Regions from separate parts of the Homo sapiens genome. Here region 1 is linked to region 2. The links come from fine-mapping of genetic effects on gene expression. Tissue or cell type: esophagus muscle. Region 2 holds a variant in brackets; the other region holds the start of a gene. All regions are shown on one strand. Distances are between the middles of the regions.

Evidence for each region. PIP is the estimated chance that this variant, and not a neighbour inherited with it, causes the effect.
Region 1: MRPL15 starts here. The variant in region 2 is fine-mapped to the expression of MRPL15 in esophagus muscle (GTEx, PIP above 0.99).

Annotation. Positions count from the first base shown.
Region 1 is chr8:54,131,133-54,139,238 of GRCh38, reverse strand. MRPL15 (mitochondrial ribosomal protein L15) reads right to left here and starts at 3,998. Exons shown (of 5, transcript NM_014175.4): 1 at 3,848-3,998; 2 at 2,574-2,728; 3 at 1,806-1,971. The coding sequence starts at 3,955.
Region 2 is chr8:54,736,036-54,744,141 of GRCh38, reverse strand. It overlaps a transcript of RP1 not described here. Among named protein-coding and RNA genes, the nearest start is that of RP1, 120 kb to the right of the region's middle. The variant G/A (reference allele first, on the strand shown) is at 4,149.

The DNA of each region.
Region 1 (8,106 bases), 600 kb after region 2:
TCACCTGAGGTCAGGAGTTCAAGACCAGCCTAACCAACACGGTGAAACCCTGTCTCTACTAAAAATACAAAATTAGCCTGGCATGGTGGCACATGCCTGTAATCCCAGCTACTTGGAAGGCTAAGACAAGAGAATCGCTTGAACCCGGGAGGTGGAGATCGCAGTGAGCCGAGATCGTGCCACTGCACTCCAGCCTGGGTGACAGAGTGAGACTCCATCTCCAAAAACAAAAAAAAAGCAGAAAATTAGCTGGGCCTGGTGGCAGGTGCCTGTAATCCCAGCTACTTGGGAAGCTAAGGCAGAAGAATCACTTGAACTCAGGAGACAAGAGGTTGCAGTGAGCTGAGATGACACCACTGTACTCCAGCCTGGGCCACAGAGTGAGATACTGTCTCAAAAAAAATAAAGAAGAAAGTAAAGCAATGAATCAAAGCACCTGCCCTCAAGGGAGCTTATATTCTAGTGAGGAAGACAATGAAAACAAATGCATAACTTGGTAATAAATGTCAAGTGCTCATATATATTCAAAGAAAAATACTTTGGGCAGAGTAAAGGAAACACTGTGACTCCTGAAGCAGGGCAAGTGCTCTTTTAAAAAGACTCTCAAAAAAGACCTTCCTGGCCAGGCGGGGTGGCTCACATCTGTAATCCCAGCACTTTGGGAAGCTGAGGCGGGCAGATCACCTGAGGTCAGGAGTTCGAGAACAGCCTGGCCAACATAGCAAAACCCCACCTCTACTAAAAATAAAAAAAATTAGCCAGACGTGGTGGCACGCACCTGTAGTCCCACCTACTCAGGAGGCTGAGGCACGAGAATAGCTTGAACCTGGGCAGCAGAGGTTGGCAGTGAGCTGAGATCGCGCCATTGTACTCCAGCCTGGGAGACAGAGTGAGACTCCATCTCTATTTAAAAAAAAAAAAAAAAAAAAAAAAAAAAGATCTTCCTGATATGTTGACATTCAAGCAGAGAACCAAAAGAAGGGGGCGCCGTGGGCGGTGGCTCACGCCTGTAATCCCAGCACTTTGGGAGGCCAAGGTGGGTGGATCACGAGGTCAGGTGTTCAAGACCAGCTTGGCCAATATGGCGAAACTCCATCTCTACTAAAAATATAAAAAATTAGCCGGGTGTGGTGGCGCACGACTATAGTCCCAGCTACTCAGGAGGCTGAGGCAGGAGAATTTCTTGAACCCAGGAGGCAGAGGTTGCAGTGAGCCGAGATCGTGCCACTGCACTCCAGCCTGGGCAACAGAGCGAGACTCCATCTCAAAAACAAAAACAAAAAAAAAAGAAGGCAAGCTTTACAGATATGCAGAAGAGCAGCATTCCAGGACCAAGGGACAGAGCCCTGCCATGATAGTATGACAGCTTTCCAAAACCACAGCTATCACCACTACATAACAGTTATAAACACAAATGGGCTAAAAATAAAGGGGGTAGAGTACTGATTATCTGGAAATCAAAAATATCTCCTACGGGCCAGGCATGGTGGCTCACACCTGTAATTCCAGCACTTTGGGAGGCCGAGGTGAGCAGATCACTTAAGGTCAGGAGTTCAAGATCAGCCTGGCCAACATAGTGAAACCCTGTCTCTACTAAAAACAAATAAAATTAGCTGGGCATGGTGGTGGGTGCCTGTAATCCCAGCTATTCAGGAGGCTGAGGCAGGAGAATCACTTGAACTTGTGAGGTGGAGGTTGCAGGAGCCGAGATTGCGCCACTGTACTCCAGCTCAGGCAACAGGGCAAGACTCTGTCTAAAAAAAAAATCCTCCTATATAACACCAAAAGATCTAATCAAGACTTACCTCCTCAACCAGCTGGACACCATAATCCCTTTTAAGTGGCTGGATGGTCACACCTCTCCCATTGACAAGCTGGGTTAAGTCAATAGGTTGACTAGGATCAACACGACCCAAATCAATAAGATACTGCAGTCTATTGAGACTCAAAGGCTTATACTGGCGTCTGAAACTGTAAAACAAGAATGTAAGAGTTGGAAAACTCTCATCTTCCTGTAACTTCTCGAAATCAACTCAAAGCTTTGTCTTGTGTTTTCCTCCACCAATTTTATTTAACTAAACAAAACCCTCTTGAGTGTAACACAAACATGTAATACTGCTTGATTTTGGGTAATGAAAACAAACCTGTACCACCTTTGTTCCACTAAAAATTATTTCCCTCTCTAAGCATTTACTTCACTTATTTACACAAATAAATCTGTGGAAAATTTAACTTACTATGGAGCTCAAAGTAATAATGGTAGTTATCATTTATTAGGTGACTACAGTGGGCCAGATTTTTATGTATACTGTCTATTATTGCTCACTCTTTTAATAACCATTAGAGCTGGCATTAGAATCTCCATTTTGCAGGTCTAAGTGCAGTGTCTGGGCCTCTTTTCCTTTTAATAATCCAGGCAAGATTTCATTACCAAAAAATGGTTCAGGGGAACAGTAGCAAAAGTTTGCTTCAAAGTGAATTTACAATTTCCACCAAAATTTCTACCAAACTATTTTTAGGTGCTTTTTAATGGAAATTGGGGACCTGTACTTTAAAAAGCAAAGCAACCTTACCTATGTCCTTCGTTAAACCCGTATTTTGGGATTCGGATGTAAAATGGAGTCTGGCCTCCCTCAAAGCCCAAGCGGGGCCGGGTTCCTCTTTGCCTTTCTCCTTTATGGCCTCTGCCACATTTTCTACCTCTTCTCCGACCTCTTGGTCTTCTCTCCTGCAAGGAAAAAAAAGAATTTTATGAATTTCAGATGCATTTCTAAAAACTGCATTTCAGCTCTTCACTTTTTGTTATGCTGTTCATTCATCCAGCCCACCAGTGCTAGCTAACACTATTGTGTCAAGCATGTCCTAGTTGCTCAAAGCTCCACACACTCTGTTAGCATCTTTGCCTCTAAAGACATAGCTAATTCTTGTAACCAAAGTCCAAGTGTGTTTCAAAAGCAAAAAGTAAAGGTTAGGATGGGGATAAGGTTTTTATAATAGGTTGAAACCGAAAAAAATCCTAGAATTAAATATTCACAACATTTTAAATGATAGGCAAGAATTTATTCTGAAATTAATTGTAAATATGCAAATGTTATTCATAAACCTGTAATTTTATTTGAAAACTGATCTGTTGAAGAAAATCTTTTCCTTAATTTCCTGTCATTTCACGAAAGCAATGAACTGACTGTTAAAATGACAGTACATTGTCAACTAACAGCTTTTCTAGCTCTATTTAGTCAACTGCAGAAGGGACAGCTGCAATTCAGATCTTTCCAATGAACATAAAGATACACCGGGAAAACATTTCATTTTAAATCCAATTTTGAATGACACAAAGACTTTGTAGTTTCAGCGAGTCGGCTTCTCCGCCTGGTATCTTTACACTTGTAAACATAACCTTATTAAGAACTGGGTGCGGCCGGGGGCGGTGGCTCACGCCTGTAATCCCAGCACTTTGGGAGGCCGAGGCAGGCGGATCGCGAGCTCAGGAGTTCAAAACCAGCCTGGCCAACACGGTGAAACCACGTCTCTACTAAAAATACAAAAATTAGCCGGGCGTGATGGCGGGCGCCTGTAATCCCAGCTAATCGGGAGGCTGAGGCAGGAGAATTGCTTCTGGGCGACAGAGCAAGCCTCCGTCTCGGAAAAAAAAAAAAAAAAAAAAAAAAGAACTGGGTGCACGTGGAAAGATTCCCCTCTGGGCAGTAAGGGAGAACAGGCATGAGGCAATCCTATTTTCATCCCAACACTCTCCTAGAAAGGGCAGTTCTCCTAATGACAGGGAGAGAAGGGCCGCTTTCATCGCCCGGGTCCCCAGCGCTTCCCCGCACCGCCACCACCCATTTACCGGTTTCTTGGAGCCGGGATTCGGCTTTAAGTTGGCCAGGCTCACACGCGGCAGGCCCCGGAGTAGGTCCAGGGCCCGGGCCCCACCGCCCTGCAAGGGACCGGCCATAACCCGCAGATCCAAGAACTTTCAAGGGCGCCCTGAGCTGCTCGGAGGCCACGTGGTCTCGGGGGCTGCTTTGTGGCCGTGGCCCCGCCCCTGTCGCGCTGCAGCCGCGCGCGCAAGCCCGGGAGTCGGGCAGAGGCGTGGGAGTCTGCAACCTTGTCTCGGTTGTCCTTTTAGTTGTTTGGGGATGTGATCTTATTTTCCGAGATCCTGCTTTGTCCTCGGGGTCCCTTTTAATATTCTGAACGTAAAACCTTCTCTTTCGCCAAACGAGAGCATGCACTAAAAACACTGCGTTAAATAAAGGATCTTTTTTGAGTCAGTGTTGGGCCTTGCCTGTTTGTCTAGGCCGTGTCTTCTCTGAGGTCAATGCAGAACCCAGAGTAAAGCAAAGTGAGCTGTCAATTATTAGCTTTTGAGCTTGCGTAATTATACACCGTGAGGTACGAAAATAAAACTGAGTGCACCTATCAAAATGCCTGGCTAATAACCAATCTTTGAATAAGACTCAAAGTGTGAACTCTCATCCGTGTGCATCTGTATTGTTTTGAGTGAATCGCAGTTAGTAACCACCTATTGTTAATGACTGGCGCCATACTGAATGCCTGGTGTATGCCAGACGCTGTATTAAATAAGCCTTACTCGATTTACAGCCATTCTAGAGGTAAATGGTGTTACTACATTTTACAGTTACAACAGGGAAGGCTTAGCAAGGTCCGATAGCTTGACCAACTTCTTGCAACAAGCGGCAGAGCCAGGATTCAAACGTACACTGCTTCCTACTATAAAAGTAGTATTTTTAGAATGTAAAATTGAGTATCTGCATCACAAAATACGAACATTATTACTCGAAAAATACCAGCTCTTCTTTTTTCTCTCAAGTGACTTAAATATAGAAAAGACTGTTCCTTTCTTTTTCTTTCTTTTAGTAGTGGTTTGACATTTCACTTGCTGGGGAGTTTTTTCTGCTAGCTCTAACTAGTAATCACAAATAATGAAGGTGAGACAATTTTTGGAGGGCGTCTGTCTCTAGGTATAACTGCGTCTTTTTAAAGTTCCTTTAAATCAAGTGTAAAATAACTACATAAAGAAAAAGTTGTATTCATTCCTTCAAGTACTATTTATAAGTAAGACACTGAACTTGTTGGAAATACACATGGATGAACTCAAATAGGATTTCATTCCCAAGTTGTTTGAAATCTAGTAGGGAACAGTTTCCAAAAGTGAATTATTATTATTATTATTTTGAGACAGAGTCTCGCTCTGTTGCTTAGGCTAGAGTGCAATGGTTCAATCTCAGCTCACTGCAACCTCTGCCTCTCTGGTTCAAGCAATTCTTCCGCCTCCGCCTCCTGAGTAGCTGGGATTACAGGCGTTCACCAGCACGCCCCGCTAATTTTTTTTTGTATGTTTAGTAGAGACGGGTTTTCGCCATGTTGGCCAGGCTGGTCTCCAACTCCTGGCCTCAGGTGATCCCCCTGCCTCGGCCTCCCAAAGTGCTGGGATTACAGGCGTGAGCCACGGCGCCTGGCCCGTGAATGTTTTTTAAAAGTTAAAGATAAAAGTAGGCCTCTTGTAGACTAATTAGCAAAAACAAAATATGTGAGTTCGATAAAATGATATGATGGTAAAGTCTAGACTCTATTTAGAAGCACAGAAGAAATAGAATGGGGTGTGGGGGGCAATAGAACCTATTTTCTGCCTTTAATGATTTTTGGTTTGTTTGTTTGAAATGGAATCTCACTCTGTCGCCCAGGCTGGAGTGCAGTAGCGCCATCTCGGCTCACTGCAGGCTCCTCACCCAGGTTCAAGCGATTCTCCTGCCTCAGCCTCCCCAGTAGCTGAGATTACAGGCATGCACCACAACGTACAGCTTTTTTAGTTTGTTTGTTTGGTTGGTTTTTTAGTAGAGACTGGGTTTCACCACGTTGGCCAGGCTTGTCTGAAACTCCTAACCTCAAATGATCCACCTGCCTTGGCCTCCCAAAGTGCTGGGATTACAGGTGTGAGCCACTGAGTCCAGCCTGCCTTTAGTGATTTTTAATTCAGTAGTTTTCATTGTGTTTTTATTAAACTTTCCTACCTTTGGGAAGAAAATTGCAAAATATAATTGCAAACTGTACCCTAATCTACAGAAAAGTGCACAATTATTTTCAATCCCCAAAAAATCATTGTTTGCATTAAGTAATGAACTTCTTGATTAAGTGTTAATGCCAGTAATGTTTTTTATCATGGAAAATTTTTTTATTGAATAAATAAAATACAAGAAATATGCTGCACTTCTTGGAAGTAGAAGTCGTATGGGTTATATAATGTTATTGGTGGACATCAGTTAATAATAATGGGAATAACAATTGTTGACAGTTAATTGTAGGCTACGTGTTTGTTTATCCCATATCCAACATGTTGATTAAGCATATAAAACTGTCAAAATAATTTGATGAGTTTCGTTTGTGTTGTAAGAATGTAAATTAAGGGTGTGTGGTCAATAAGTCAACAATCCTTACCTTAAGTATATAGTAGTTTTATGTCATCCTCATAATTGCACAAGTCATATTTATTACCCACCTACATGCTTGGGATGTGCTAAATCCTGTTTAAATCAAGTTAACAAGAACTTGTAATAAAAACATTAATATCTCAACAACTATTTAAGGTCCATCCTGATTCCAACCCCAGTTGATAATAACTGCTGAATCATTACATAATAACAATGAAGCCGGGCGCAGTGGCTCACGCCTGTAATCCCAGCACTTTGGGAAGCTAAGGCAGGCGGATCACCTGAGGCTGGGAGTTCGAGACCAGCCTGACCAACATGGAGAAACGCCATCTCTAATAAAAATACAAAATTAGCTGGGAGTGGTAGTGCATACCTGTAATCCCAGCTACTCAGGAGGCTGAGGCAGGAGAATCGCTTGAACCCCGGAGGCGGAAGTTGTGGTGAGCCAAGATCACGCCATTGCACTCCAGCCTGGGCCACAAGAGCAAAACTCTGTCTGAAAAAAAAAAAAAAAAAAGAATGAAGTGATACAATTTGAACTGCTTTGGAAGACTTCACACACTGCCACGAAATCTTCCCCAATCTATATATATATCAGCACCTGACAGTGTGTTAACATAGATTAATTCCTTTGAGTTAATTATTTTTCTAAAAAAAAGTTTTTTTGCCGGGCGCGGTGGCTCATGCCTGTAATCCCAGCTCTTTGGGAGGCCAAGGTGAGCGAATCACGAGATCAGGAGTTCGAGAACAGTGTGACCAACATAGTGAAACCCCGTCTCTACTAAAAATACAAAAATTAACCAGGCATGGTGGCATGAGCCTGTAATCCCAGCTACTCAGGAGGCTGAGACAGGAGAATTGCTTGAAATCCCAGGAGGCAGAGGTTGCAGTGAGCCAAGATCAGCCTGGGCAACAGAGCGAAACTCCATCTCAAAAAAAAAAAAGAAAATTTCAGGATTAGCAGAGAAGGGGACTGGGAAATGAAAATAAAAGGGAATAGGCTGGACACAGTGGCTCACACCTGTAATCCTAGTAAACCCAGAAATTTGGGAGGCCCAGGTGGGTGAATCACTTGAGGTCAGGAGTTTGAGACAAGCCTGGCCAACATGGTGAAACCCATGTCTACAAAAAATACAAACATTAGCTGGGCATGGTGGCAGGTGTCTGTAGTCCCAGCTACTCAGGAGGCTGAGGCAGGAGAATCACTAAAACCCAGGAGGAGGAGGTCGCAGTGAGCTGAGATTGTGCCACTGTACTCCAGCCTGGGCAACAGGGCAAGACTCCTCTCAAAAAAAAAAAGTTGAGCAGAAAATAACTGGAGAAGCAATATTCCTAAGTGAAGGTGGGAGAAAGCCAGAGGCAGGAGAACAATGAATCCCTTTGATATTGGGAGAAAACTAATATTGAGAGAAGGCTATGAAGAGGGCATGGAAAGGGGCTGGAAATAAATGTCCCCTTGATAAAACTTAACTAATTTTGCCTTGATAAAACTTGGTTCCAACCTAAAGGTCTTTATTCACACCTAAATAGGTTTTAATTTTATTGAAGTATTGTAATGCCTACATATGTTGAAAAAATCAGATAGTACAGAAGGGCTTATAATGAGAAGTAGTTGTTTCCTATTCCATTTCTAGTTTCACTCCCATAAGCAATC
Region 2 (8,106 bases):
AATGCACAATATTCCTTTCATAGAATGTTAATAGATTTTACCTGAAAAATATGACCCCATGGTGAATTTAGTTTTGGAAATGCTGTTAAACAGATTTCCCTACCACAGGGCATCCCAGAACCTTTACTATATTTATTTGCATTGTGACTTTCCAAGAGAGGAATGAAAAACTCAGTGTTTCCAAAACTCATGTGGGAAACTCAGTGTTTTCCACACTGGAAACATTTATTGGGGAGCATCTTGGGAAAGCAGAAGCATGGCTGGCTTTTTACATCATGGGAAGCGGCCTCAGGGCTGAGGTGAATGGGCATTAGTGGGGAAAGTAACTTCTTTGAATTGCTCACGTAAATACTGGTGTCTAAAAACCATTCTCCACTAAATTAAACTAGGGCTCCTTGAGAAATAGGTAATTCCAGGGCTAGGGAAAAGAAAGTACTAGATAAGCCTGAAACATCTTTTCAAATCAGAAAGTAAAGAAGTCCTCGTAGAACGGACAGTGACATGTGAAAAAAATATAGGGGCTTACAGGAAAAAATGAAGGATGATTTCAGCATCAAAGTAAATTATGTTAATAAAGATTAACCCATCAAATAAAGTAAGAATCTGCAAGTACACGCTGGTATGAATAAATAAATGAAATTTTGAAATGGAGAGAAGGAAAAAGTTCTACCTTGTAGTAGAATGCCAATTAATAAATAGAGAAATAACAATAGAATATAAAAATCACCATTTGGCCACCATCACAGTAATAACTGACTAAGGCAAAAATCATCAATGGATCCTAAAATTAGTGGGTAAAAATTTTATGGTGAATACGATATTTACATAGCCAAAGAATCAATGGACTTCATGTCAGTAAATATTTGTCAAACGATTAAGACATACATATAAACACACAAACATATATATATATTTTAACAGGGAATGGTAAAGTAGATGGAGTGCAACCTTAACAACTGGGAATCTGAGTGAAATTTGAGTTCTTTCTTCCATTCTTGCAATTTTTAAAATAAATTTGAAATCACTTCACAATAAAAAGTAAAGTAAGGTGTAGGAAAAGTCCCTTCTCTTACATTGCTTTGGTAATGACAGTTTCTAGCTGCTCAATTCAATCAATTAATTAGTGTTCTACCCACTTTACTCTTCACAGAAGCCTTTACCACTGACCAGAGGAATGGATGATGCCTCCCTTGGTTCCCAGGACTGAGTGCTCCTTCCTTGGACAGCTTCTGCTGGGGATGTTTTTTCCTCCAGTTGAAGAATCACTACGTAGTGATGTTGCTATACCCCTCAACCACTTTTCTCACTCACAGGCCCCAGAGAAAGCACATCCATGCTATTGACTTCAGGCCCACTTAACTCATGGGTAAGTTTCTTCTAAAATTTTAGTTCTGACTCACCTTTCCCAGTAATTCACAGGCACAGAGCTTCTGATTTTACTACACTTTGCAGGTTCCATGGTTTTTGCATCTTCTTAAAAGGTCATTGCTTTTCTCATCTTAGAATTCTTTCAATGCTTCTAAATAGAAAACTTTAAAGTCACCAAATGGTTTCCTCAAATCCTCCATATCATCTAGCATAATGCAGGGCATGTATTAGGTGCTAAGTAGATATTTCTTGACTTACTGACTGGAACATATTTACCTGTTCCTGAACTATTAGAAAACATTTCATTATATAGGCATGTCCTAAGAAATACTACAATAAACACCTCAGCAAAATTAACATTTTTCTCAATTACTTTTATTATACAACCAAAGATACAATAATAAAAATCACAGATAAAATTAAGAAACACTTAAAAAGAAAGAAACATTTTGCTAGACTCTATCAGTGGTATTCCAAATTTTAAACCTGAAGCATTTTGGAATAACATATCTTGTACTGTAAAGGAACCAGTGACAGATATAGTATTTAAAGCCAGAAAGCAAAGATGTTCTATGATTCAAACCATTTCATCTGACTCCACTATAATCTAGTGCTTCCATACAGAAATCTCAAGGCTTTTAAGTGTTTAATTACCATCTATTTTTGAAAATAAACTTAAGGCCCAATGATAGTGCTTAAGATCTCAGTCTCTGGAGTCCAACATACAATAAGACCATTTACTGAGGAACCTCAGGCAAATTACTTAACTTGATCGAGCCTCAGTTTTCTCATATGTAAAATAGGATATTAATGGTACCTAAATCAAAGAGCTGCTATTAGGCAGAAATACAGTGGTATTTGTAAGGTAGGTGGCATATGTTAAGCACTCAACAAATACTCATTATTATTATTATTGTTATTACTGCCATGATTAAATAAAAATGAAAAAATAAAAAAACCAGGATCTCAAAGTGCATACATAGCATGATTCAATTTCACTAAAAGGGCAAAGCACATATAAACATATATATATATATATATATATATATATATATATATATATATACACACACATTTGTATTTATATGTACATATTTAAGGTATTTATTTATACATATGTTTTTATATATATTCATGTGTTGTTTAACAATGGGGATACTTTCCAAGAAATGCATTGTTAGGCAATTTCATTATTGTGTAAACATCATAGAGTGCACTTACACAAACCTAGATGGAATAGCCTACTACATACCTAGGCTATATGGTATAGCTTATTGATCACAGGCTACACACCTGTGTAGCATGTTACTGTACTACAGGAAATTGTAACACAATGGTAAGTATTTACAAATCTAAACATATTAAACAGAGAAAAGGTAAACTAAAAATAGAGCATGAAAGATTAAAAATGGTACACTTGTATAGGGCATTTGCCATGAATGGAGTTTGCAGGATGGAAGTTGCTCTGGGTGAGTCAGTGAGTAAGTGGTGAGTGAATGTGAAGGCCTAGGACATTATTGTACACTACTGTAGGCTTCATTAACAATGTATACTTAGGCTACACTAAATTCATAAAAAATATTTTTCTTTTTTCCATAATAAATTAAACATTTAATTTTTTAAAAACTTTTTGACTCTTTTGTAATAACACTTAGCTTAAAACACAAACACACTGTACAGTCATACAAAAATATTTTCTTTCTTTATATTCTTATTCCATAAGCTTTTTTTTTTTTTGAGACAAAGTCTCACTCTTGTCCCCCAGACTGGAGTGCAATGGTGCAATCTCAGCTCACTGCAACCTCTGCCTCTGGGGTTCAAGCGATTCTCCTGCCTCAGCCTCCCGACTAGCTGGGACTACAGGCGCCTGCCACCACGCCTGGCTAATTTTAGTAGAGATGGGGTTTCACCATGTTAGCCAGGCTGGTCTCCAACTCCTGACCTCAGGTGATCCATTCCACTTCGGCCTCCCAAAGTGCTGAGATGACAGGCATGATCCACCGCACCCGGCCCATAAGCTTTTTTTCTACTTATTTTATTATTATTTTTTTTAAGACAGAGTCTCGCTTTGTCGCCCAGGCTGGAACGCAGTGGTGTGATCTTGGCTCACTGTAACCTCCACCTCCCAGGTTCAAGCAATTCTCCTGCCTCAGCCTCCTGAGTAGCTGGGATTACAGGTGCATATCACCACGCCCAGCTAATTCTTGTATTTTTAGTAGAGATGAGATTTCACTATGTTGGTCAGGCTGGTCTTGAACTCCTGACCTCATGATCCACCCACCTTGGCCTCCCAAAGTGCTAGGATTATAGGTGTGAGCCACTGCGCCTGGCTCTCTACTTAATTTTTTTTTTTTTTTTTTTTTTTTTTTTACTTTTTAAGCTTTCTTGTTAAAAATAAAGACATGAACATACACATTCGCCTAGGCCTGCACAATGTCAGGTTCACCCATATCACTGCCTTACACCTCCACATCTTGACCCATTGGAAGATATTCAGGGGAACAACATGCATGAAGCTGTCATCTCCTATGATAACAATGCTTTCTTCTGGAACACTTCTTGAAAGGCTGCCTGAGGCTGTTTTACAGTTAACTTTTTGTTAATAAGTAGAATGAGTTAATATAAGTATAATAAGTTAATAAGTAGAATGAGTACACTCTAAGTGATTAAAAGTATATGGCATTATATGTATATATATAAAATATATTTTTATATATATTAAATTACATATATATAAAACACACATCCCAGTAACAGTTGCTTACATTAGCAAGTATTAC[G/A]TACTGTACATAATTGAATATGCTATTCTTCTACACAACTGGCAGCACAGTAGGTTTGTTTACACCTGCATCACCACAAATACATGAGTAATTCATTACAATAGGACATTACAACAGCTGTGACATCACTAGGCAGTAAGAATTTTTCAGCTCCATTATAATCTTATGGGACCACCATTGTATATGCAGTCCATTGCTAATCAAAACATCCTATGTGGCACATGGCTATATTTTACATTGATATTTACACATATATATGTGCTATGTGTGTGTGTATGTATCTATATCTATACCGAGAGACAGAAAGCACACGAGTCTGCAAGGAACCATGAAAGAGATTCATAGAAAAAAGATATGAAAAAAAAATGCACCACCGAGTGGTCATCTAATGATCAATGAATAACAATTCATTTTGTTCTTACACTTCACCGTATTCTTCAGATTTCTATGAACAGATTATCTTTGCAAATATAACCATAAATATGCTATTAAAAAAAACCTTTCGCAAGAATGAACCATATTTGTTTAGAGTGTTATGTCCACAAAAATTTTGTTCACATTATTTACAATACGGATGGTCCTCAACTTACCACAGTTCAACTTACAATTTCTTGAGGTTATGATGGGTTTATTGGGAAGTAACCCATCATAAGTCAGAGAGCTCTGTATGACCCATGATGGGTTACAGCTTTTATTGAATAGATGTCGCTTTCACGCCATCATAAGTCGAAAAATCTTAAGTCAAACCATAGTAAGTAGAGAACTATCTGCTATGTCAGTGGCATTAAATTCATTTTTGACTTAGGATATTTTTTATTTACCATGAGTTTACAGAGGCATAACCCCACTGTAAGTCAAGGAGCATCTGTAATTAGGAAAATACCGTTTTCACTGCTTTACATAGCCAGCTTGCTTCTTTTCATCAGAGAATAACTATGAAGAAAAAAATAAGTGACATGATTACCCTCTGCAAGTTCCACTCGGGTTGCTCACTGGTTCCATCATGTCCTATCCTTATCTTATATATGTTTCCAGTGTTTCTTATTTCAACCTGAATGAAATGCAAAGGAGAAAAAAATTATCAGAATTTTTTAAATTAAGCACATTAAAAAATTCTTTCTTTTTACACTAACTGCATTTTTTGTTCCTAATAGTTAAAAAGCTCTCAGGAACTCTTTCAGAGTCTAGAAATGAAATGCCCTCAAGAAACAATCAGTGAACCTCACAGACACAGAGTATGAGACAGAAATATCATGAGACTTGACTAAAAATATGCAGAAGGAGTCAAATGAGAGAACAGGATGAAGAACACACATATGCTCAGTTCTCTGACTACCACACATTTCTCACTGGAAGCCAACACTTTCTGAGTTCCAATGACAGAAAGATGGGCTTGTATTTTAAGAAATTAAAAAAAAAAACAATTTTCGCCAAAGAAAAGCTAAATATGGTGATTTCTACAAGCTTAAGAAAAGTGTGAGTCTAGAACTTCCTTGTACTCTGAAAATCCTGTTGTCTTTGATGATACCTAGGTTAAGATATAGATGTTCTACGTTCAAGGAAGAGAAGCAAACCTGCCCACAGAATATGGGTGCTGATTTAGTTTTTGATGTGGCCCAAGAGTATTTGTTAATCCAGGTAGCATTGTGGAGAACTGGCTTTGGGAATCACTTTTAGCTCAACTGGAAGCCTAGCTGTTGCAAACGGAGTAAAATATGTTTTTGTAAACTGAGTAAAGTATGTTTTTTTTACTTCTCTTATCTTCAATTTCTTTATCTGTTGAATGGTCACATAATGCTTTCTGCATAAAATTTTCAGTTCAACTAAATAAATGTATATTAAAACAATAAACAATGTGCAAGTCCACAGGTATGCGAAGATGAAAATGACGGCACAATCTCTAACTTGGAGAAATATACAGACTAGCAAGGGAGACAGACTTATAAGCAGATATTTTTAGTATAATAAAATATGTCCAGGACACTGAACTGTGAGGATTTTTTTTAAATGTAATATACCACCTTATTGCTTAATGGCTTCAATAATAGCCATTGTTATTATTTCTACTACAGGCACCAATCTACCTCTGCAGACTAGAGATATAAAGAGGCAGGCACTTGCATATTATGTCTGACTAGACATTGCCTACCTATGGACTAGACCCTGAAAGAGCTGGGACAGTCAAATCACCCAGAAACTATCAGAACTCCTTTTTCATACCCAGTTCCCATGCTTAGAATTCTTTTTTTTAAGTGCCCACCACCACTTTCCCCTACAGACTGCAGCAGCTAGAACAGACCTGGGCCTGTTTCAATGCCAGGTCAAGAGAAATTATGCTGTTCTCAACTGGGAAGAAGGAAAATAGGGATGTTAATCCCCAACAGCCAATTTCCCCCCACTTCCTTATTCCCAGAGCTGGTTTCAGTGGCAGAACTCAGAGGCTAGCTCTTCCTCCCAGAGGAAGCAGGAAGTTATCCTCCAGTTTGAGGCTAGTTTGTCTCTAAAAGGTAAACCACACTTTAAATATCCTTTCATTGTCCCAAGAATCTATTAGCACTTAAGTGTAAACTTCCTTTCTCCACAATTTAAGTGAAAACAATAAAGGGATATCTGAACAGTCTGGTTACCAAGCATATGTGACTTGATACCTATCTGTCTGTTAAGGCAGAAGAGCAGAACTAACTGCCACTCAGGTCTGTGCCAGCCAGGGGGGAAAGACTTGACATGCTTGTCCCTTCCAATCCACACAGTCACCCTGTGAAGGGTAAGGCTCTTTTAAGTGTCTACTTTAAAAGATGAAGAAATTCAAACAGGTTAAGTCATTTGTCTAAGGATACACAGCTGGATACACAGAAAGTTCCAAAAGTAAAATTTGAACCCAAGTTTAATAAAATATCCCACATTGTCCTCAAAAATGGCTATATGCTCACTTCAGGACTGGAAAGAAGGAAAAGAGAATGAAAGACAAACTTATAAGTGGCAAATGATGCCAATGAAAAGGAACAAGGGAATCAATACCCACAGAGAAGAGAGTGTATAAATGTGTCAATTCATTCTAATTTAGGATTCTCAAACTATCATAAGACCCCAGTCTTATGAGTGCCCATTAACCCCTAGGCCAGTGCTTCTCAAACTTTAGTGCACACACAGATTACCTGGGGATCTGGTTAAAATGCAGATTCTGATGCAGTAGGTCTGGGATGGGAACCCAAATTCTGTGTGTTTAACAAGATCCCAGGCAATGCCCATCCTGCTGGCCTGGAGTCCACAAGACTCTACACTCCTGGGGGCTTCCATGTGTAGACCCAATCTCCACCACTGAGGTAATAATCTAAAGCTATTCACACTTCACAGTAAATGACAGAGGCCAGTAGAAAACATATCCTGAGCCATTTACCAGCAGAGGGAGTCCTTGGTGCCTGTAATCTGTCATCTGTAGAGCACTTCCCATCTACCAGGTGCAGCGCACGGCACACACCTTCCCAGGCATTCTTTAAACTACACAGCAAGGCTTTTAAGTGAGTATTATTACCCACCTTGTGCTAAGTAGGATACTGAGGATTAGTAAGGATAATCAGTCTATTTAACGTCACAGAACTAGTGAGAGGGTGATTTGAACCTGGTCTCTGACTCCAAGGCTTCTGTTCTTAACCAGTTTATGAGTTTTACCGTATGTCAATAGGATTCCTTTTTTAATTTATACACATTTTCTCTTTTTGTCATCACAATACCTTAAAATTTAGAAAGAAAAGATCTTATTGCCTGTATTCTATACATAAAGATAGTGCTGGCCTGGAGAAATTAAGTGGCATATTCAAGGTCACATAACTAACATGTGGGAAGCAAGGACTCCAATCTAGCTCATCCGATTTGCAGTCTAGTGCTATATCCAGGATTCTCAACCTTGGTTGCACTTTAGAATCACTTGGGGAACATCTAAAAACCTCAATACCCAGAC